2 linked regions of the Homo sapiens genome follow. The protein of the gene in region 1 interacts with the protein of each later gene in a biochemical or structural test. Each region holds a gene or a part of one and is shown on either strand. Other genes may lie near its edges.

Evidence for each region.
Region 2: the proteins of PPP2R2B (region 1) and SULT4A1 form a complex in vitro, tested with the Homo sapiens proteins (one study listed by BioGRID).

The regions. Positions count from the first base shown.
Region 1 is NC_000005.10:146,867,323-146,878,289, forward strand, and holds part of PPP2R2B (serine/threonine-protein phosphatase 2A 55 kDa regulatory subunit B beta isoform), read right to left. Parts: exon of another isoform or gene 10,874-10,967; coding exon of another isoform or gene 10,750-10,873; coding exon 10,680-10,749; intron 1-10,679. UniProt on the Homo sapiens protein: The B regulatory subunit might modulate substrate selectivity and catalytic activity, and might also direct the localization of the catalytic enzyme to a particular subcellular compartment.
Region 2 is NC_000022.11:43,836,221-43,847,187, reverse strand, and holds part of SULT4A1 (sulfotransferase 4A1), read left to right. Parts: intron 1-5,255; coding exon 5,256-5,386; intron 5,387-7,162; coding exon 7,163-7,243; intron 7,244-8,194; coding exon 8,195-8,321; intron 8,322-10,967. UniProt on the Homo sapiens protein: Atypical sulfotransferase family member with very low affinity for 3'-phospho-5'-adenylyl sulfate (PAPS) and very low catalytic activity towards L-triiodothyronine, thyroxine, estrone, p-nitrophenol, 2-naphthylamine, and 2-beta-naphthol.

The sequences.
Region 1 (10,967 bases):
CAACCCCTAATCAGCAGATCCATACTCAAAGGTAAGGTCTTGATTCTTCATCGGGCCTTTCATTGAAATTAGTAAATTTAAATGGTATGTTATTTTTTATGACTCCTTGCCTTAACTTTTCAAGTTTACTGTCAACTATTGGTCCCAAATGCATGGAGTAGAGAGGGAATCTTTTGTATTTATTTATTTATCACATATAAATAGTAACATGTTGCCTCATCCCCTGCCATATTTTTGTTGGCAAGAAAACACTCAGCAAGATGAAGTGACCTGCCCAAGGCCACAGAACTAGCATAGCCAGAGGTGTGTCTAGAGCCAGGTGGGCTCTGATTCCACCACTTCGGCCACCTCATGATAACAGAGAGATAAACAGGACACAGTTTCACGCACCCTGGCTTCTGTGGTTAATTATATTTTGAGAAGGACGGAGTGTCACCTGCCCAAATAGATGGAAAGACATTTGAGAACAAGACTATAGGCTTATACTTCACCATATGCCCCAGAACTTCCTACATAGCACTTGGCAATAAATAATTTTTGTTTGAATTGTTAAATTTTCTTTCCTACTTTATAATAGTGGAAGAAATTGGGGCCTTCCTGGTTTCTGAAAAAATTATGCTCCCTTGGAGTTTATAACCCCCACCATGGAGTATAAAATAACAGGAGAGAAATTCTATTGTGCCTGTCAGATCATGTCATTGAGAGCTTAACCTCATTGATTGGCACTTGCTCTTCCCCATCAGTGTGGCAAGATGAGCAGCACCCTGCTCACCAGATGGTTATTTGTTCCACCAGCCACCTTTGCTGAGTCCCTGATTCACTCCAGCCCAGGACTGTCTCCAGCATTCATGCTGCAAGGCAGCTCCTGCCAACAACTTTGCCAAATGGCTCCTCTCAAAGTCATGGCTGCCCAGACAGACTGGCTCCTCCATCTGCAGCAGCTTTTGGCAAAGAGAAGTTTCCCTTTCTGGCTCTGCCTCTTGGCTGCACCAGAACCTTCTTGCCAGAAGGATGATTTGACCCAGGAAGTACAGCCAGACCTGGAATTTCTGGGGTCATTTAAAGCCTATGGCCATGTTTTCCCAGTCTCACCCCTGAGGTGAACATCAGAACATATCAAAGAGACCTAGATGATCACAAATACAGAAATAATGCCTCATAGAAACTGAGAGTCAGAAAAGTCTGTAGAGAGCATGCCTTCCCTCCCCCATCTTCAACCTCATTATAGTAGCTTAGGAAACTGAAGCCCAGAGAATAAAAGTGACAAATTATGGTAGCAGGACTGGAATCCTACCCAGGTCTTCTGATGTGCATTCCACATAACTGCTTACGATACTGCATTGCCTTTCCATTTCCCCCCAGTTCATTTTCAAATCCTTGGTAGAAATTGGACCCTTGTATTGATTGATTCAGAAGAATATTTTTTAGAAAAATGAATCATCTTTTCCCTATCAACATCATAACTGTTCTTTTAAACAGGTGTTCATATACTACATTGTGATGAATTTTTGCCAAGTTTAAGAATACAGGGTTTGGAATCAGATAGACCTGGATGTGACTTCTGTTCTACTCACTGTTGTGTAACTATGGACTAGTAATCATATTATTCTGCTTTAACTTTTCATTTAAAGGGGGATAAGAACAGTATCAGCCTATACAAGTAAACTGGATTACATGAGAAAAATACTTTAAGGCTCTAAGCCTGTACTGGTGCACAGAAAGCCCTCCATAACTACCAGCAATCATTATTAATTATTAACATTCAAATCCACAATGGTTTTGGAAGACACAGTACTGGGCACATATGAATAGGTAGATCAGGTATTCTCATTCTCTACATTAGGAAATTCAGGTTCTTGGTTTAAATGACTGATCCAAGGTTACACAGAAAACAAATAGAAGACCACAGATTTCTGATTTTTTCTTGCCATTTTGCTAAGAAATGGGAACTGTCATCTCAGCTTTAAAGATAATAAAATCAGGAAGGAGGACATTTAAACAAAAACACATATACACAGATAATCACTGCAGCATCTTATGTAATATAAAAGCTGGAAACGATTTTCTATCCACAGGGAACTACTAAATAAACTGTGGTACTGTCATACTATGGAGCACCGTGCAGCCATTAAAAGGCATGAGACAGATGTAGGTGTTCTGATATGGAAAAATCTTGAAGACGTATCACTAGTAGAAAAACAAAGTGCAAATAAAACGGGCAGTGTGTACTCATTTATGCAAACATCCTCCCCAACTATATATCTGTACATGTATATTTAAATGTATGAATAGAAAGATGGCTCTGAGGAAGTCTACCAACTACTGATAATGGTAACCTTTGGGTAGGAAAGTGGGATGGGCATGGGATGGAGGGTGATTCATGCTTTATTTACTTATCATGCTTGAATCCTTTTAAGTAAGAAAGAATATAGTATTATTTGACTTATAAATAAAAACATAAAGGCAGAGGGAAATGTGAATTATAATAATGCAGTTGGCATGAACCAACAGACCTCCCAACTTGAGTGTCTCTAGCCCTAACCTGACTTCTACAAAGCTACATAAGCAATGTTAGTTTCACTGAGTTTCCTGTGTGGCTCTCCCACTGTGGTAGGGTCCTTCCTGGTGGTATTTTGTACTTAGGGACCCAAGTTCTATCTTTCAGACCACCTGGGAACTCTCAGCAGCATCTTGCTACAATATTCCCTATTAGAGACATTTACAGCTTTGCCACCCTCTACACCCTTGTGTGTCTGTAGAGGGACATCAAGCTGATCCTTCTACGTCAAGTGGAGGAGGCGGCCTGCCATTCTTTGACCACTTCAGGTTCATTGCTTAGCAAGGATTCATACCAGTGTGATAAGCAATGCTTGATGGAGGAGGTTTTCAGTTCCCCAGTGTTATGGACCAAATTGTGCCCCCCTCCACCCCAATCTATATGTTGAAGCCCTAACTCCTATGTGACTGTATTTGGAGATAGGTCCTTTAAGGAGATAATTAAGATTAAATGAGGTCATAAGGATAAGGTCTTATGGGGCTGGTGCCCTTGCAAGAAGAAAAAAAAATGCCAGAGATTGCGCTCTCTCTTTTCACACTTGCACACAGGAGAAAGGCCATATGAGGACCCAGCAAGAAGTTGGCTATACATGGGAAGAGAGAACTCACCAGAAACCAACCATGCTGGCACCTTGATCGTGGACTTCCAGACTCCAGAAATGTGAGAAAACAAAATTTCTGTTATTTAGGCAACCCAGTATGTGGCGTTTTTAAAAATGCAGTCTGAGCTGACTAATACACCAAGCACAAAGGCCAGTACACCTGAAACACATCCTCCCACAGGTAAGGTACTCTTCGCCACGCTCCGTCCAACAGACCCCATCCTTCTCAGGTTAAAACCTGTTCATAAGGGCCCCTCTAGATTCCTAAACTCCATACATCTTTTTTCCCCTTACACACAGACCCCCACCCCACTTCATTTAACATTTGTTGTAAGCGATCAAGTCATTTACCTCTAAAGCACAGAAGTGAAAGTCTGACTACCCCCATACAAGCACACACCCTTTCTCATTACCCAGGATGACCCTTTCTCCAAAGAAAGCTATGAACATTAACAATTAATATTTCCCACTATTAACTCTTTCCACAGTGAACTTGGAGCAGGAGAACTCAAAGGTTCCTGGGTTATTTCTGACAAAGTTCCTAGTGGACTTATAAAAATAATCTGTGCTTTCTGCGAGATAGTTATGTTGGGGCTGACTTTCAGCCTGATTCTAGAGTTCTATTGGAGTCAAAAGAAGGAAATTTGGTGGTAAAGATGACAAGTTGGGTGAAAGCAAAATCGTCTTCTTATTAATGGAAGATGAGGGGAACCAGCTGGAGAGCCACTCTGGCCAAAGTGAAGCCTCAGACATCTACATATTTATGTGCAAAAGAACATCTGCCATCCCACAGCTGCCTCCGTCATATTTCTCTTGCTGTGGCCCAGGCAACTATATGAGTTGTCATGAGCTGGGAAGAGTGGGTGCCTAGATGGCCCAGCGGGACCATCTCAGCTCAGCTCAGTCTGGGAGCTGCATGCTTACTGTCCTACACTGGGGATGAGTGACATGGAGAAAGCTATTCAAAAAACTCCAGCTAGTTCTCACATCTTGATTGCTCAATTCCATAAACATTTTTTTCTGTTCTTATTATATAACAGAAGAAATCTACAGGAGTAAGTCAGCTAAGAATTCTGTTACTGGGTCGTAGAATTCAGCTTCCTCCCTGTGGGATAATGGAAAAGGCCCAGAGACGTGCACTGCTGTGCTAGGAGAAGATAGATCAAGTAAATCCAGCAGCACCGACCAGGCGCCAATGGGATATATGTGGAGGGTGGAGCACAACTTGCATTTCTCCAAAAGATCCTGAGCAGCATGGGTGAGCAAAGAACATGTGCCAAGAATCCACACAGTCATGAGCTCTAATCTGGTTATGCCACTTACAAGTGAGTATGTTTGTAATACATGTGTATTTGTTATGCAAGTTCCTTTGGTTCTCTGTACCTTGAAATTTCTTATTTTAAAAATGAGGTTAATGCAACCATTCTCTCTGGGTTGTTGATGGAGATTAAATGAGTAAACATAAGAAATACCTAGGAAAATGCCTGGAATAGACAGTACTCGCGATACCTTAGTTTCTTTCCCTCAGCTAAGTGTCGAAATTGGACCCCTATTTCTTCTTAAATGCAAACGCCAAAGTCTAGGAATGTCAGTCTACAGCTGTGCTCTTTTCATTGGGCATTACCAATATTTTGACAGGACTGGCCTAATATTATTCACCCCAGGATCATTGGTACATTTCTGACCAGCACTCATAAAGGGCTTGGGATTGCCCCTGGGGACCTGGATGCTAATAATGAATACTTGCTAGTGATTTTCAATGCATTCTGGTTATTATGTTTAGTAGCAGAACATTTCCCATCCCCAGAAAGGTCATTTACAATAGTGTAAGGCAGCTACTTCTCACCTCGCATTTCAGGTTTCTCTGAGAACAGCAGAGAGCTCAAACATTCATCCATATGCATTGGAAACAGCATTCTGATCTGGCATTTGCATACAAATACCAAAGCAACTTAAGGAACTATGAGGCAGCTCTCCATCATATGACACTACCCCCTTTTATTTTTTCAATGCCTTCCCAGCATCTTCATATCAAAAGCCATTTTCATGTACCTTCCCAGCTTTATTCATTATAAGTTTCCCCTTTCTTGAGCTTATTTGGAATGGGGGATGGAGGAGGAATCTTTACTTCCTCACTTTTACTCTCTGTGGCCCTAAAAAGCTAATGTATTTCACAAATCACTCAGATCTCAAACCTGGAGACGTTCTAAACTCAACTCATCCAAGACTGGACTCTTCTTATCCTACCACATTGCTGAGAAATGGCCATATATTATAGTATTACTTGAATAATATCAGTGTGTGGTTATTTATGCTTACCAAGGCCCTATTCTATTGTGAGGTACTTTTTTGCTACAATTTCTTCATACCAAGCCAAGATCCACTTCCTTGTACTTTCTCACTCATTGGTTCAAATTTTGCCCTGAAATGTTCTTATCTGAGGCATCTCATCTATTCATACAGTTTTAAGTACCTTTAATATGCTGGTGATGTTTAATCTCAAATTTATTATCTAGTCCAGGTCTTTCTCTTGAGCTTCAGACCCAGAAATCCAATTGTCTACTTGCAAGTCTCACTGTGAAACTAGATGTCTCACTGTCTTCTCAAACTAATCAGTTTTCAGTCTGTTTCCGCTTTTAGTGATGCGCCCCATTATGCATCCATTTTCATGGCAAAATTCTGGGAGTTGTCCTTGACATCACCTTCTCCATCTGCACCCAATCATAGTAAGTAAGTGCAATGCAATCTTTCTCTATTACGTATCTTAAATCCATCTAATTCTCTCCATCTCTACTGATGCCACCATCCTGGAGCACACCATGACCTCCTAATTATCTCCCAACTTTCATTCTTTTTCATTACATGCCTGGCTCTCTAACCCCATCCTACACAGCAGCCAGATTAAACTTCTAGAAAAACAAATCTGATCATGTTTCCCTTTTCCTTAATGGCTTTCCATTCATCTTTGGATAGAGTCCAAACTCCTTGTGGTCAACAAGGCTTGATATGATCTGGTCCCTGAATACTTCTCCAGTCTTTTTTTCCCCCAACATTTTATTATGAAAATTCAAACAGACTGCAAAGTGGAAAAAAAATTACAGTGATTATCCATAGACCCACCACCTCAATTTAGTTATTAACTTTTTTTTTGAGATGGAGTCTCGCTCTGTCACCAGACTGGAGTGCGGTGTCGCGACCTCGGCTCACTGCAACCTCTGCCTCCTGGGTTCATGCGATTTCCTGCCTCAGCCTCCTGAGTAGCTGGGATTACAGGCATACACCACCATGGCTGGCCAGTGACTAACATTTTATACTTGCTTTATCATATGTCTATCCATTTACCCATCCCTCTCTCTTAGCATTAATCTTTCTTGCTTCTGGTACATTTCAAAATGAACTGCAGACTCCATTCTCATTTTTATCACTCTTCTCCCTGTTCCTAGCCATAGTCATCTTTCCATTCCTTGAATCAGTTAGGCTATTTTATCTCTCTGGGCTTTTGTACCTATTGTCCCTTCTACCTAAAATGCTTTCAGGTCTTGTTAATTGCAAATTCATCCTTTAGTTCTCAGTTTCAGCTGTCTGAGAGGCTGTCCTTGAACTCCCGATCTAAATTAGATCCACCTTTCCACCTTATGACCCCAAGGCATCTTGTGCCTTTCCTAAATATCACTTATCACAATTGGTAACTATATATTTATTTGCAAAATTATTTGTCTCATACTATCTCCTTTGCTAGATTGAAAGATCCCTGAGGACAGAGACCACGTCTGTATTGGAACATCCCGTATCACCTCTGCAAAACGTCAGTATTTGTTGAAGGAATTAAAGGCAGAATGAATCAATAATTGAAAGGAGCTACTTGGAATAGTAAACTTGTTCTTCCTTTAATATGTATAAACAAGACAGTTTTTTAAAAAGGCTTCTGAGGGAAGGTGGAACCCACTTGTTGCCAGAATATAACCAGGAAGTACATTAAGTAACAATAACAGCTATAATGAATTAAGGGTGGGCTTTGTATTAGGCATATCCCGAGTGCTTGAGTGCTTTCTCTGCATCAAATAATTTTTCTTTGGCATAGGTTCTATTGTTATTCCCACTTTCCAGCTAAGGAAACTGAGAACAGAGCAGTTATTTTAAAACACCCCATCTATGTAGAATATTTGGTCTATCTGTGGCCCCATTTGAAAGTAGGAAGATTAATCTAGAAAACTCACAGACTGCTATAATGGAGATAGGGTTTTACTTGGCTGTAACAGAAGCCTAAAAATATAGCAGGAAACCCACATATAGAGAGATTTGAGAGATGAATCCCTGGTTAGGAAACCTGGGGTTCCATATCTGAAAAAAAAAATCAAACCATTGTGTTGACTTTATTTTTGTGGGAAATTTCAACCCTACCCAAGGCCCTTCCTCTATATAACCCCATACACACACTTCAAATTTTCCCTGCAAAGGATTTTATGCCTGATGGAAATATAGCTTATACACTGAGATAAAACCATTGCAATCTTTCCCAGAATAAGAGCTGATGGTTAAAGGAAAATGAAGTAGTGCAGAATTTCCTAGTGGGAGAACCTGGCCTTCAGACACTGGCTTGAGTTTGAAGACAAGGTTTTCCATTGAATGTGTGACTTTTGGCAAATTAGTAACATCTTCAGACCTCAGTTGCATCAGTTTCCTTCTTTGAAAATGGAAATGACAACATCCATTTAACAGGGTTTAGATATATTGAAATGCTATACATAAAGAGCTCAGCACAGTGCTTGGAACATAGAAGATGCTCAAAGATGTTAACTTTAAAAGAGGAGGAAAGGTAGGGGAGGGTGGTAATTTTCATGCTCAGAATTAAAAAAAAGTCCTAGGAAATTTATTTATTAAATGCACACCATGCATTCTTTTGAGAAAGACAGAGAGAGAGAAAGAGACTGAGAGAGGGGAGCTTGGGTGAAAGTGTCCTTTAGCATTTGCATTGCTCTTAGCTGGATGAACTTGCCTGCAGTCACCACTTACAATGCAAATTGAGTTTAGAGTCCTTCACACTAACTACACAGCAAAAACCTTTCAGCTTTAAATAGAACACTGCAATGTGGAATGATCTGAGCAAACAGAAGAAAAATTCAGAAATACATGTGAAGGAGATATTTTGGAGGAAAAAAAAGAACAATCTGACATAACTGAGCAGGTAGGAGGAAAATGTAGAAATAGTAAAGGAAACAGAAAAGCAAGATCTATGGAAGGACTAGAAGCTAATTCCCCACCCAGTAAGAGGGTATAAGTTAATAAGGGGGAAGAAAACTTGTGGGGCAAGTCCCCAGTGAGGAGAATTTTTAAAAAGTCTTTTGATCTGGTGCTTTTTCAAGGTATACTAACACTTCTTAAGGAATTCATTGGAAGAACAGGGACTCTTCCCCCTCTGGCAACAAAATTGCATGAATCTTCCCTGAAACGAATAGGTCAAAACTGTAGGGAACTTCTTGTTCTATCCAACTTCTGGTATTTACATCGTTTAAGTTCTATTTTCCTTTTCTTTTCATACCTTCTCTAAGATCAGATTTTAAAACCTAGAAGCTTCTGTGAAATAAAGGTTTGTTAGTTTTGAGTGTGATTAGTATGTGTGTGTGTTTGAGAAAGAGAAAGAAATCTGAGAGGTTGATTCTCACATGCCAGAAATCTCATTGCTATAAACTCATATCTATTTTTGACTATGTGAACCTAGATATTCTATCCAGAATCAGAGTTTTCAAAAATGGAATAAAAATAAGAACAACGGTAATATCCAGGGCCCTGAAAACAATAAAGAATGCCATTTTTAACTGATTTCTTCACTTCACAATTGACACTCCTGTACACATAGCTCCACTCTGGGCATTTTCTCAGCTTGCTAAGTTTCTCTTGCCTGCATAATGTAATATACAAGAAAACATGAAGGCAGCTCTCTTTCTTTGTGGTTACAAACAGAAATAAATGTTCCCCCAAAAGCCAACAGACCCAAGGCCAACTTCTCTCTTGGATGACATGCTTAGATACAGAGTTAGTCATGTGCTATCAGGTCACTGAGTCAGTGACAAAGCACTAAGATTGAGGGAGAACATCTTACAATCAGGTTGCCATCATGCACAGAAAAAGAATCGGTAAGTATGGTGCTCTGTATAGGGGAGGGATGGGCTGCACATCTTAAAAGCCATCTCTAAGCTCCTGGAAGCCAGAGCTTACAACTCTGCTTTATCTGTCTAGCACCATGGGCATACTGGGCTTGATGCTCTCCAAAAATGATGACAAATGGAGAATATACTTTCAATAGCACTGGACATTCTTTCTGTCTAGAACTTCCAGGGATGTTTATAGAAGATGCCACCTTTACCCCCAGATGTGTGTGTGTCTTTTTATTTCTTTCAGAGCTTGAACTCTTTTACTCCCCCCATCACATTTCTCTAGCAGTCTTTTGATTTGATTAAATATTACAGAAATGTTAGCATCCAAGAATAATAATTTTAAATTAATACACCTTGCAACATTGTCCTAAAGCATTTCCACATACATTTTCTCGCATGGATATTACAATGTGATAATGCAACACTTTGTATGAGTGGCTAAGGATAAAAGGCCTACAGGTAGAAAATGAAAGCAAAAATGCAAAAGTTTTGGCACTGGGGGAAAAAAATGCCTCTACTCTCTATTCACACACAAAAGGCAGAATGAGATTCCACCTGCTGACTTTCCCTTCCTGCCCGCACAGCACTAGTGCTTATGTCAGAACAAGCTGGGAGAGAGGGAGAGACGACAATTTCACCTCTTGGCAAAGCTCAGCTTGCTGAACCCTTTTGCTTTCTGCTGGCTGTTGATTCAGCAGAAACTACTGCTGCAGAATTCATAATGGTGATTTTTAAAGGCCCCACCGATCGCGTTGCTCACCCCACGTGTCAGCCTCATTCGCTGCCCGCCAGAGCACTATTTCCCCAGCCACCTTTTTATTTTTGCTAATGCACTTCCAAAAGGAAAGAGGTTCGCCCGTCTGCAAAGGGCTTTTTGGGGTTTTGATTGTCTAAGCAGGTAACCTGGCCGGCCGGGGAGATGAATGGGCAGGAAATGAAACCTTGCCCTCCCTGCAGCCACTGAGAGACATAACATCGTTTCGCTCAGGGAGGGGGGACCAAGGTCCTACTGGGCCCCTCCCTTCTTATCTCCCCCCAAGACCCCTGCGAACATCTCGGGGAAGGGGTCATCTGCCTTCCTGGGGTCATCTTTCTGGGCGAGAGCCCCACCCTGAAAAAGCCTAATCCCTGAGGGCCATTTTAACTCCCGTGGGCGCCGGGTCCACCTGCTGCTGAACGCCGAGCTCGCCTCGCGGAGCCCGGATGGATGCGAGGTGCACTGGGGCTGCCGGGGCCAGCCGAGCCCCCGCCCCAGCCCTAGGGCCCGGAGGAGTCTCCGCCACTACGCGCCCAGCTGCCCAGGAAGCACAGTGATCCGCAACTTGCGCCCGGCCCCAACGGCGGAATGCGGCGGGGCTGGCGTTACCTTCGGTCGCATAGCTGTGGTCGCGCAGGAAACTGTTGTTGATTTTGCGGGTATCAATGTCCTCCTCCATTGACAGCAGGCTTACTTGCGTGGGAACCAGAAGCCGGCAGACAAGTATCCATGATCCCTCCCCGCAGCCAGTCTCACAGGAGAGGGGGGCAGGGGAGCCAGTGGGACTGCACCATGGTCCGAGCCTGAGGAGGAGACGGGGAGGCGGAGAGAAAAAAAATAAAAACCCGGCAATGGAGCTGTCACCTCCTCCACTCGGGTTCTGCGAGGCTGCGGCGG
Region 2 (10,967 bases), on another chromosome or scaffold:
CCCTGATGCCCACGTTGACCTGCTGTTGAATTCTCCTGGAAGCTGGAAAACGTAAGGTCAGGAGGTGTTCAACCAGGAAATTGATGTGGCAGGCTGGAGAGAAGGGCCACGGGGACAGGGCCGGGTGGACCTGACGAGTCAAGAGCTTCCTTTGGCTGATATTCTGGCATAAATATTTAATGGGGGTGAGGACGGGACTTGTGGAACTGAAGTGGCCGATATTGATGTAAGAAGACTTTAACGTGCAGAGAAGGTCTGTCTGGGTCGTTGGCCTGCGGGGCTGCACGGGTGGGGAACGTGAAAAATAGGTGATGAAAATGTCACTGGGAGAGGCCCATTTCAGGGACGCTGCCCACAGTCTGATTTCTAAGGACAAAGACCCCCTCACTGCAGCTGTCCTGAGCTGCTGGGTGGATGGTCCTCACCAGGAGGAACAGGCAAGGCAGCCACACCCTGGTTCTATAACCCTTGGCACATTTTGGCCTTAGCCTCGTCTGCCATGAGGATGGTGGTACTTCCTACTCAGGTTGGTGGGAGAGTCCATGGGCTGAGAAGTTCTTTGTGTGTATTGAAAAGAGCTTGTTTTCCATCACCAAGCCAGACCACTTCCTTCCTTCAGTGCCTTTGCTCCAAAGCTCCCTCCTCCAGGAAGTCTTCCTTGATCAACACATCCCCTTCTGATTACTCAGTGTCTATGCAGCAACCAGCGTTTGTCGGTCCACTCAGGAAATATGAATTGAGCATGGCCACATGCTGGCTCTCCTGGTGCAGCAAAGAACAAGACAAAACAGCCTCTGTCCTTAAGGTGGAAAGAGGAGAGAGCATGTAAAAGAATTTGCAGGCTTTTTCTGGGCAGGTAGATAGCACATTGGAATCGCATGACAGGGCGAGGGACGGGAGTTAGTCCCACAGCTAGTGAAGGAGACTGTGCTGACTGAGCGGCATCTGAGCAGGCGCAGGGAGGAGTCAGGGAGTGAGGAGGCTCCAGGCAGGGACACCAGTGTCGGCAGCCTGGGGAAGGGCCGGTTGGGCTCAGAGGCTGGAGGGAGCTCAGGGGAGAGCCAGGTGGTGAGGGAGTGGAACATGGTGAAGGCCTTGCGTTGACTCTGTGGGAGGCAGAGCTGCCTGACGGCGGCAGTGGACAGTGGTGGAGTCTGACTTCCATGTTAAAGCCACAGTTTTGGCCGCTGGGTTGAAAACAGGTAGAATAGTGGTCCCCAACCTTTTTGGCACCAGGGAGTGGTTTTGCGGAAGACAGTTTTTCCATGGACCCAGGTGGTGGGTGATGGGGATGGTTTCAGGATGAAACTGCTCCACCTCAGATCATCGGGGTTTAGTTAGATTCTCATGAGGACCACATAGCCCAGATCCCTCGCAGGTGCAGTTCACAATAGAGTTTGTGCTCCTATGAGAATCTCGTGTTCCCGCTGATCTGACAGGAGGCAGAGCTCAGGCTGGAATGCTTTCCCGCCCAGTGCTCGCCTCCTCCTGTGCGTCTCGGTTCGGAACAGGCCACAGACCCGTGGCCTGGGGGTTGGGGACCCCTGGACTAGAAGGCAGAGTGAGCTGGGTGGCAGCAGAGAGCCAGGGAGGAGCCCTCGTAGGAAGCAGTTCAGGTGTGAGGACGCAGTGTCACAGGGGGAGGGTCAGCTCTGGACACACCCGACGGCAGGGTCGGCGGGGCTCACTGAGGCAAGGACAGAGGAGAGGAGCCGGGTGAGCCACAGTGAGGCCACCATCCGGCCTGAGCCTCTGTCAGCTGGAGGGGCTGCTTGCTGAGACGGGCTGCGGATGCTGCGGAGGAGACAGCCTTGGATGCTGCCCCCAGAGCTGGCTGGGTCCCACTGAGGCGCTGGGCAGCGGGTGAGGTACTGGAGTTGGTGGGCATGTGCCCCGGAGGCTGATGTGTGGAGGGGTGGACCTGGGTTTGGCCTGGGGGCAGGGGACCAGGGCTGCACTCCGGGCTGTCACCACGTTCAGGGCGGGGAGATGAGGAGCCAGTGGCAGAAACTGGAGCCGCCGATATGAAGGGACCACAGTGGGTTAAGCTGTGCCCGTTTCTTCTGGGAGGTCAGACAAGGTGATGACTGAGAATCACTGGGGACCTGGAGCTGTTTTTGGGCCTGGGAATAGAGGCTGGAGAAGGCGCAGAGGGCCGCCTTTCTCCCTGGGAGTTACCTTTGGTCCCGGCACACTTCTGGTTGGGTGTCCTGCCTGGCCCTAGGGTCCTCGAATGGGACTCTGCACTCAAGGCACCAGTGCATGTGGTCAGCCCCATGTGTGGTCCAGGCGGGGCCCCGCTTCCTCCTGCCTGCACCAGGTGTGGAGCCGGTCACAGTGCCTGCTCCCCTGGGCCGTAGCAGGGAGGAGAGGGCCTGTCCCGTGCATCCCAGGGTGTGCACTGCAGGTGATCCCGGCCATCAGAAAAGGCCGACTTGAAGGGGCAGGGGCTCTGAGACAGCTGTGCCTAGGCTGAGGCTGGGAGGAGCATACAGGCAGAGCGGAGAGTGCTGTGGTTGGCCCTGCCCAGGAGGGTGCAGCCTGGACCCCGCACCAGGTGTGCAGAGCTCAGAGGGCCTCAGTAAATGATTGAATGCCTGGGCCTGAGTGTGTGAACATTGGGAAGCTACGGAAGGGTTTTGGGCTGGAGGCCGTCGGACCTGAGTGCGAAATGTGCTGTTTGTCCTAGAGGGACGGTTCCCAGACCCAGGCAGGAGGCCTGGCTCAGCCGCGTGGCTGATTTGTGAGGAGGGAGAATTGGTCCATAGGTCTCTAGCCCTGTGGGCAGCTGTGGTCCTGTGAGTGAGTGCCAGGGTGTCCTCAGCACACACGAGCTCCCCCGCAGGCCTCTCCCTGCCTTTAATGGCACGGCACGCTGGGCTTGCCCAGGCTCTTCCCGTTGGCCACATCTCCCCACAGTCTTAGGAGAGGAGGTTATGCTGACCAGGCCACTGGCGGGCGGAGGTGATTTGTCTCTTTTTAATTGAATTATATCTTACATGTGCGTATCAGTTGGAGAAAAGCCCTCAAACCGCTTTTCCTCTGCTCTCACACAAGAGTCAACACAGAGGCCTCCTGTGGCGGACAGGCTGGGGATTTCTCCCCGCCAGCAAGCAGGCACTCAGTCCTGCAGCAGCACCAGCTGGATGTCCCCCAGTCCAGTTCAATTCCAGCACTGCCCACCTGGAGACAGCACGAGATCCCACGGGGCGAGGTCTCAGTCCCACAAGACTGCCCCCAGTTCTGATGCCAACCACAAGCCCCAGGTTGTTTTGCCTGTGTGTCTCACCCACTGGCTATAAATTGGGGTTCGCACACCCTCCCTGCCCACGTTTGACTAATTTGCCAGAGCGGCTCACAGAACTCAGGGCAACACTGACATTTCCTGGTTTATTATAAAGGATGTTACAAAGGCTTCTGATGAATACCAGAGGAAGAGACGTCTGTGGAGGATGGAGGAGGGTACGGAGCTTCCATGCCCTCTCTGGGCAAGCCACCCTCCAGGAACCCCCATGTGTTCAGCTCTTTGGAAGCTCCTCAAAGCCTGTCCTCTTGGGCCTTTTATGGAACCCTCATTGGCTAGGCATGGTGGAAGCATGTAGAAATGGGACTGGACAAAAGGGCTGTGAGCCCAACACTGTCAGTCGGAGTGGGGAGCCCAGGAAGGCCTGCCTGTGCGACATTCCTTCCTCCCCTTCTGAACTGGGGGTCTCATGACCCACACAGTCAGAAAAGGCAGGTCAGAGAATTTTTCTTTTTGTTTTTTGAGATAGATTCTCACTCTGTTGCCCAGGCTGGAGTGCAGTGGTGCAGTCACAGCTCACTGCAGCCTCTACCTCCTGGGTTCAAGCGATCCTCTCACCTAAGCCTCTTGAGTAGCTGGCACTACAGATGTATGCCACTATGCCCAGCTAATGTTTTTATTTTTTATTTTTTGTAGGGACAATGTCTTGCTATATTGCGCAGGCTGGTCTCGAACTTCTGGCCTCAAGCAGTCCTCCCGGTTTGGCCTCCCATAGTGCTGGGATTATAGGCATGAGTAACTGTGCCCAGCCCAGAGAGTTTCTTCATAGCCAGCTCCAAGACAGAAAGGCGGGGGAAGATTCAAGTATATTTTCAGTTTGTATGGCCTGCCTTGGGGAGAAAAAGGAACAGGTGAAAGGGGTGGGGGCAGGAGAAGGTCAGAGAGAGAGAGAGAGAGAGAGAGAGAGATGCTGTTTACTGAGACCTGCTTCTAAGGCCTGGAGTGGTCCAATATTATGACAAAAGACTGTAATAAGGGCTGGGGGGATAATGAGCCAGGAGCCATAGATGGAAACCAGCACATATCATAATGTAGCATGCTTCCATGTAATTCCCACCAGACCCAGTTAATAGCTCTAGACCCCGGAATCGCCTTTGTGTCTTCTCTGAATCAGTAACCAACCCAAAATATAAACACTGTTCTCACTTCTGTCACTATAGTTGAGTTTTGCCCATCCTTGAACCTCATGCCAATGGGACATACAGGATTGTACCCTGGAGCGCCTTGGGGTGGGAGGACTCCGTCACATCCTGTCTGTGGGGCTTGGCCATGCTGTGTCTGCAGTTCCGTCACATCCTATCTGTGGGGCTTGGCCGTGCTATGTCTGCAGTTCATTCTTTTTTGTTGCTGTGTAGTACACCATGGTGACTGTCACAACTTACTCATTCTATTGCTGATGGGTATTTGTGTTTCCAAGTGACTTTATGAATGATGTGGCCAAGACTGTTCTAGAACCTGCGTACTGGTGGACAAGCACTGGCTTCCCTTGGGTGTCTCCCCAGGATAGTTCCTGGATCATGGGCTATGTGTATATAGCTTCAGTAGATACTGGGCAGACGTCATTTCCTCATCTTGGCTAGCGGGTCATTCCCCCGACCCATCATTCCTGCGTAAACTGCCAAGTTCAGCCTCAGGTTGGGCCGAGTCACCCACCTGTTACAGCCCCTGAGCCACTTCCATAACAGGGGCTGGGTTCTGTTCTGTTCTGTTCTCCTAACAGCCCTGTGAAGCATCCTGGCCCCTCTGAGAATCAGAGCCGACTGGCCCATGACCCAGCACGGGGGATTCAGGCTGAGACCGTGCGGGGCGCGCTCCTCTTCCCAGACTCAGTCGCCCTGGGCCCCACCTGGGGCTCTTGAGCCCCTTCTTGGGCAGCAGGTGTTGACCCGAGCACAGGGCCGGGCGCGTGGGCCTCCTCTGAGCACCCCGCGCTGGGGCTTCTCCCCTCCAGGCACCAGCTTGCTGCAGGAGGTGGTCTACTTGGTGAGCCAGGGCGCTGACCCCGATGAGATCGGCTTGATGAACATCGACGAGCAGCTCCCGGTCCTGGAGTACCCACAGCCGGGCCTGGACATCATCAAGGTACCCAGGGCCAGCAGCACCTGTCCCAGCACCTCTTTAGGGTATTTCTACCGTTACACCCTGATGATTGACAGTTGCTCCTGGGGGCTCTGTGGATTAGGGGAGAGCAGATAGCCCCAGATAGCCAGGGGAGAAGCTGGCAGGCCTGAGCTGGCAGTGACCTGGAACCCGATGAGGGCGTGGGTGACACATCAGCGTCAGGGAGTCTGTGAAGTGGAAAGGAAGTCAATGCCTGGGGGGCACAGGGCTGAGGGGCCATTTGTGGGGAGCAGGCCCTGGGCCTCCCCCTCGCTTTCCCCTGGGGGCCCTCCTCTGAGGGAGCTGGGTAGGATGTGTTTGCATCAAATATTTGGTATCAAGAATGAATAAATGTTACCCCAGAGCCCTGCTCCCCGCACCCCTCAGACACACCCACAGGCACCCCCACCCCGTCCGCTGCACCTCTTTAGTTCCAGCCTCACACCTGAATGGGCCAGAACTGCAGCCTCCACCACACCTGTCCTCCTCCCTCTGGAGCAGCATTCCAAAACCCAGCTCTGAGAGTGCCATCCCACCCTGTGTCATGCTCTGAGAGTGCCATCCCTCCCCATGGCACAAGACCCCTGTGGCCCTCCAGGGCCCCTGTCTGCACCCCAGCCTCTCGGGCCTGAACGGCCATTTTGCTCTCCTTGTCCGTGCGGAACCATCTGGGAGTCGTTCCGTACTGCCGTGCCGAGGGCCACCGCGTTCAAGGCACTGCTCTTGGCATTGGGGGCAGCAGTGACTGACAGCATCAGGCCCGGCCTTTCAGCCCAGGAAGCCATAGTAGCTAGCCAGCGATCAGCGCTGGGAGGGGAGCAGATCAGGGGGGGACCAGCAGTCTCCTCTGGGGATGTCTGAGGCAGGTCCTGAAAGAGGAGAGGAGCAGAGGGACCCGTGAGCAAAGACCCCACGGCACGAGGGGCCTGGCCTTCCAGAGCAGTAGGCAAGCCTGGGGGTTGCAGGCAACGGTTCCGGGCTCTTTGGCTTCATGAGGGCTGGGCCCATTCCTAGGGCAGCTGGGAAGACGGGCTCTGAGCAGAGAGCACGGTGCTGGCTGCTTTACAGGACAACCCTGGCTGCTGATGGGAAGGCCCGAGGGGCAGGTGGAAGCAGTGAGCGCATCAGGCCAGGTTGCTGTGCGGTCCAGCGCCAGCCTGGCAGCACCCACTGGGGCTGGTGCCTCCTGCTGCCTCTGCTGCCCTCCGACGCCACTCCAAGCCGGGGCAGTAGCTCCCAGGCCCCCTGAGCAGATCCTGTGGCTGTGGCTATGATGGGTGGACTCCCCAGGCCAAAGTCAAGGACCCTTGTCTCTACCGCCAGGGTCCAGCCGGGGTGTGCTCATGTCTCCAATCTTTGTCTCAGGTGACAAGGGAGGCTGTCCTGGCTGGGTCCGAGACTCTCTCCAGGACAGGAGACCAGGGCATGACAGCCTTGCCTCCTCTTGCTCTGACCCCTCCCTACTCCTGGCCTCACCTTTCCCTCTGACCCCTACCGTTCTCCCCTGGCCCCCACCCCTTCCCTCGTCCTCTGGTCCCCCTGCTCCTGGCCTTACCCCTCCCTCTGGCCTCACCCCTCCCTCTTACCTGACGCTCTCCTGACCCCTCCGCTACCCTAGACCCGCCGTTCCCTCTGATAACTCCACTTCCCCTGAACCCCACCCCTTCCTTCCTCCTCTGGCCCCCTTCCCCTTGGCCCCACTCCTCCCCTTGGTCTCACCCTTTCCTCTGACCTGCCTCTCCCTCTGACTCCACGCAGGAACTGACCTCTCCCCGCCTCATCAAGAGCCACCTGCCCTACCGCTTTCTGCCCTCTGACCTCCACAATGGAGACTCCAAGGTAAGCTGGCACCTCCTCTGCCTCCCGAGATGAGTCCCCACCAAGAGGAGCCCAAGGTCCCTGTGCAATACACATGCAGGTCCCTGGCACTTACCTGGCCTTGGGGGCTGTCTTCCCAAGGAGCCCACACGTGAAGATCCCTTCTGAGGTGGTCTTGGGTCATGCGTCTCTAGCATTTTACCCAAGTTTTTAACGACGGGTTGGTTTTTACCTCACAGTCAAACATGGCTGTGGCCAGCCTAATCCAAAGCAGGCCAGCAGGCGTGTACCTGCTTTGGGCCGAATTCTCTTTGTTTTTCAATTGCATCAAATGCCAAGGCCTGTGGGGTTTTTTTGTTTGTTTGTTTTTTTGTTTTTGAGACGGAGTCTTAGTCTGTCGCCCAGGCTGGAGTGCAGTGGCATGGCTCACTGCAACCTCTGCCTCCCTGGTTCAAGCGATTCTCCTGCCTCAGCCTCCTGAGTAGCTGGGACTACAGGCATGTGCCACCACACCCGGCTAATTTTTCTATTTTTGGTAGAGACAGGGTTTCACCATGTTGGTCAGGCTGGTCTTGAACTACTGACCTCAGGTGATCTACCCACCTCGGCCTCCCAAAGTGCTGGGATTACAGATGCGAGCCACCGCACCCGGCCAGAGGCCTGTGTTCTTACCACCAGGATCAGGGTTGTAAGTTTTTTGTCTTCTGCAGATTTTAAAGTAGTTCTAGAGGACAGAAATAAAATGCTCAAGTAATTTTCCTGGCCAGCTCTACTGCATGGACAGGGCACCTTTCTGCTGAAACAGCGAAGCAGCAGCACCCAGCAGCCGTGCACATGGGCCCCAGCTGGACGCTGGAAGCAGGTGTTGGTTTGTGAGGTGCACCAGCAGGTTCAGGGAGGCTGGCCTGTGTCGGGGCAGCCCTGCCTGGGAGGGAAGGAGACACGGACTCATCCTGCTCCTGTCACCCACAGGTCATCTATATGGCTCGCAACCCCAAGGATCTGGTGGTGTCTTATTATCAGTTCCACCGCTCTCTGCGGACCATGAGCTACCGAGGCACCTTTCAAGAATTCTGCCGGAGGTTTATGAATGATAAGCGTGAGTGTTGCAGCCTGGCGGCATGTTAGAACCGGAGCCGTCTGTTGTCGTGGACGGCCTGGCAGGTGCTGGGTGCTTCCCCGACACGGTCTCCAGTTCTGACAGTGACCATGTAGGTCAGGCCCGCGGTCACTTTACAGATGAAGACACTGAGGCCGAGGGTCGTGAACGTGGCCGAGATCCTAGAGCTGGTGTGTGTCAGAGCAGGTCCATCTGAACCCAGAGCCCTTCTCTTCTACCACACTGTCGGGGTGTCTGAGAAGTTCCCCAGTTAAAACATCCATCCTTCCTACCTGGGTTTCAAACAGGGAGAGAATGAAAACAGTAAAAATGGAGGCCCAGGTATCACTACTGTTAGTGATAGGGCCTGGAGTGGAGACTGGAGCTAAGTGTGACAGGCATGGGCCTTTGGCTGAACCTCAGGCACAGGCAAGCTACTGGGGCAGGGCACACTTGTGCCCGCTGGGAGGAGGACAGCCGGGCTGAACCTCAGGCACAGGCAAGCCTCCGGGGCAGGGCACACTTGTGCCCGCAGGGAGGAGGACAGCCGGGCCGAGAGTGCCATGTGCTGTTCTCTGGCTTCCATTCCAGCCCCTGAGGAGGAGCGAGGCTGGGTTCCACCCTGCCCTGCTCTCAAGGAAGGCGGGACCAGGCCTCTTGTCTTGGTCCCACTCGCTCCCAGTCCTTACTCTCTTGCCCCGCTGGGCCACCTTTCCCTTGGGAGTGGTGGCAGAGCTCCTCAGTGCAGTTCTGTTCCTGCCTTCCTGAGGGGGCTCCCCATGGCCAGCCATGGCTTTGGGAGGTCCTGGGACAGAAAGTGGGCAGTGTAGGGTGTGCAGGCAGAGGAGCTTTGAAATGTGTCATAATAGCTGCACTTTAATTAAATCTACACTGAGACTCTTCCCTACCCAAGGCTGAAAATACACTTTCTGTTTTATTTCCCAACGGAAGTGATGCTGAGCCGCATTGTTCAGTGTGGCTTATCGGGGGCTCTGCAGGGGGCTTATGTGACAGGATGAGGATGAATCATGTAGCAGAGATCCTGGAACGTAATGCCCTCGAGTTTAAGTGGAACTTAGGGCAGTGGACCTAGAGCTGCTGCCAGGCCTGGTTGAAGGGGACCTCTTGGCGGGGCGGTGCAGGGCGCCACAGGCTGACTCTGTTGCTTGCAGTTTGAAAACCCACGAGGGCCTCAAAGCCCTGGGATGATTCTGTTTCCTGCCCTTGAGCCTCTGCTTCCACTGTGCCTGCTGAGAAGTGGCCCTGCCTGCAAGGGGTAGGAGGCCCCAGACCGCACCCTGAAGCCCCCTGAGCCTGCTCTGGGCCTTCTGTCCAGCCCCTCTTCCCATGGCCTCTTGGCCCTGGCACCTGCTCTTGTGGTCCACCAGGCATTTGGAGCAACCCACTCATGGACTTCTGAAGCTGTTTCCTAGGGTCCAGCATGGACTCTGCTCTCTGCAGAGCATGGGGACAACACCCACATTCAGACCAGCACGTGGAAGAGGCTACAAACATCTTGCTCAGGCCAGAGCAGTTAACAGTTCTCTTAATATAGGCCTCTCCATGTCACCACAGTCACAGACCCATCCTCCACTGAGTGCAAGGTCCCACACACGTGCCTTGGTCCCAGCAAACCCTGTAGACAGGCCCACTCAGCACCCCTGTGCTCCGTCCTTCATTGTCACTCAGTGAGCACGCACATACTGAGGACCGCTGGACCCCCTCCCTGATGTCCTGAAGACGGTGGAAACTAATATGCACGGGAACCCTGAAAGCACACCATGTCCAGACAGGCCAGGATCAGAGGCCACAGCACAGGGCAACAGCAGGAGGGTCCTGCATAAACAACCACGCGTGAGCCTGGTGACCAGCTCTGCGAGGCTGGAGGGCAAAGGGCCCTGGAGGCAGGTGACACCTGCAGTGTGAGGATGCCCCGTGACAGGCTTCCTGTGACACCTGCAGTGTGCGGACGCTGTGTAGACAGGCTCCCTGTGGCACCTGCAGTGTCAGGACGCTGTGTAGGCTGGGTCCCTGTGGCACCTGCAGTGTGAGGACGCTGTGTAGACTGGGTCCCTGTGGCACCTGCAGTGTGAGGACGCTGTGTAGACAGGGTCCCTGTGGCACCTGCAGTGTGAGGATGCTGTGTAGACTGGGTCCCTGTGGAGCCTTCAGTTTGATGTGTAGACAGGCTCCCTGTGGCACCTGCAGTTGGAGGACGCTGTGTAGACAGGATCCCTGTGGCACCTGCAGTGTGAGGACGCTGTGTAGACAGGGTCCCTGTGGCACCTGCAGTTGGAGGACGCTGTGTAGACAGGATCCCTGTGGCACCTGCAGTGTGAGGACGCTGTGTAGGCAGGCTCCCTGTGGCACCTGCAGTTGGAGGACGCTGTGTAGACAGGATCCCTGTGGCACCTGCAGTGTGAGGACGCTGTGTAGACAGGGTCCCTGTGGCACCTGCAGTGTGAGGACGCTGTGTAGACAGGGTCCCTGTGGCACCTGCAGTTGGAGGACGCTGTGTAGACAGGGTCCCTGTGGCACCTGCAGTGTGAGGACGCTGTGTAGACAGGGTCCCTGTGGCACCTGCAGTTGGAGGACGCTGTGTAGACAGGCTCCCTGTGGCACCTGCAGTTGGAGGACGCTGTGTGG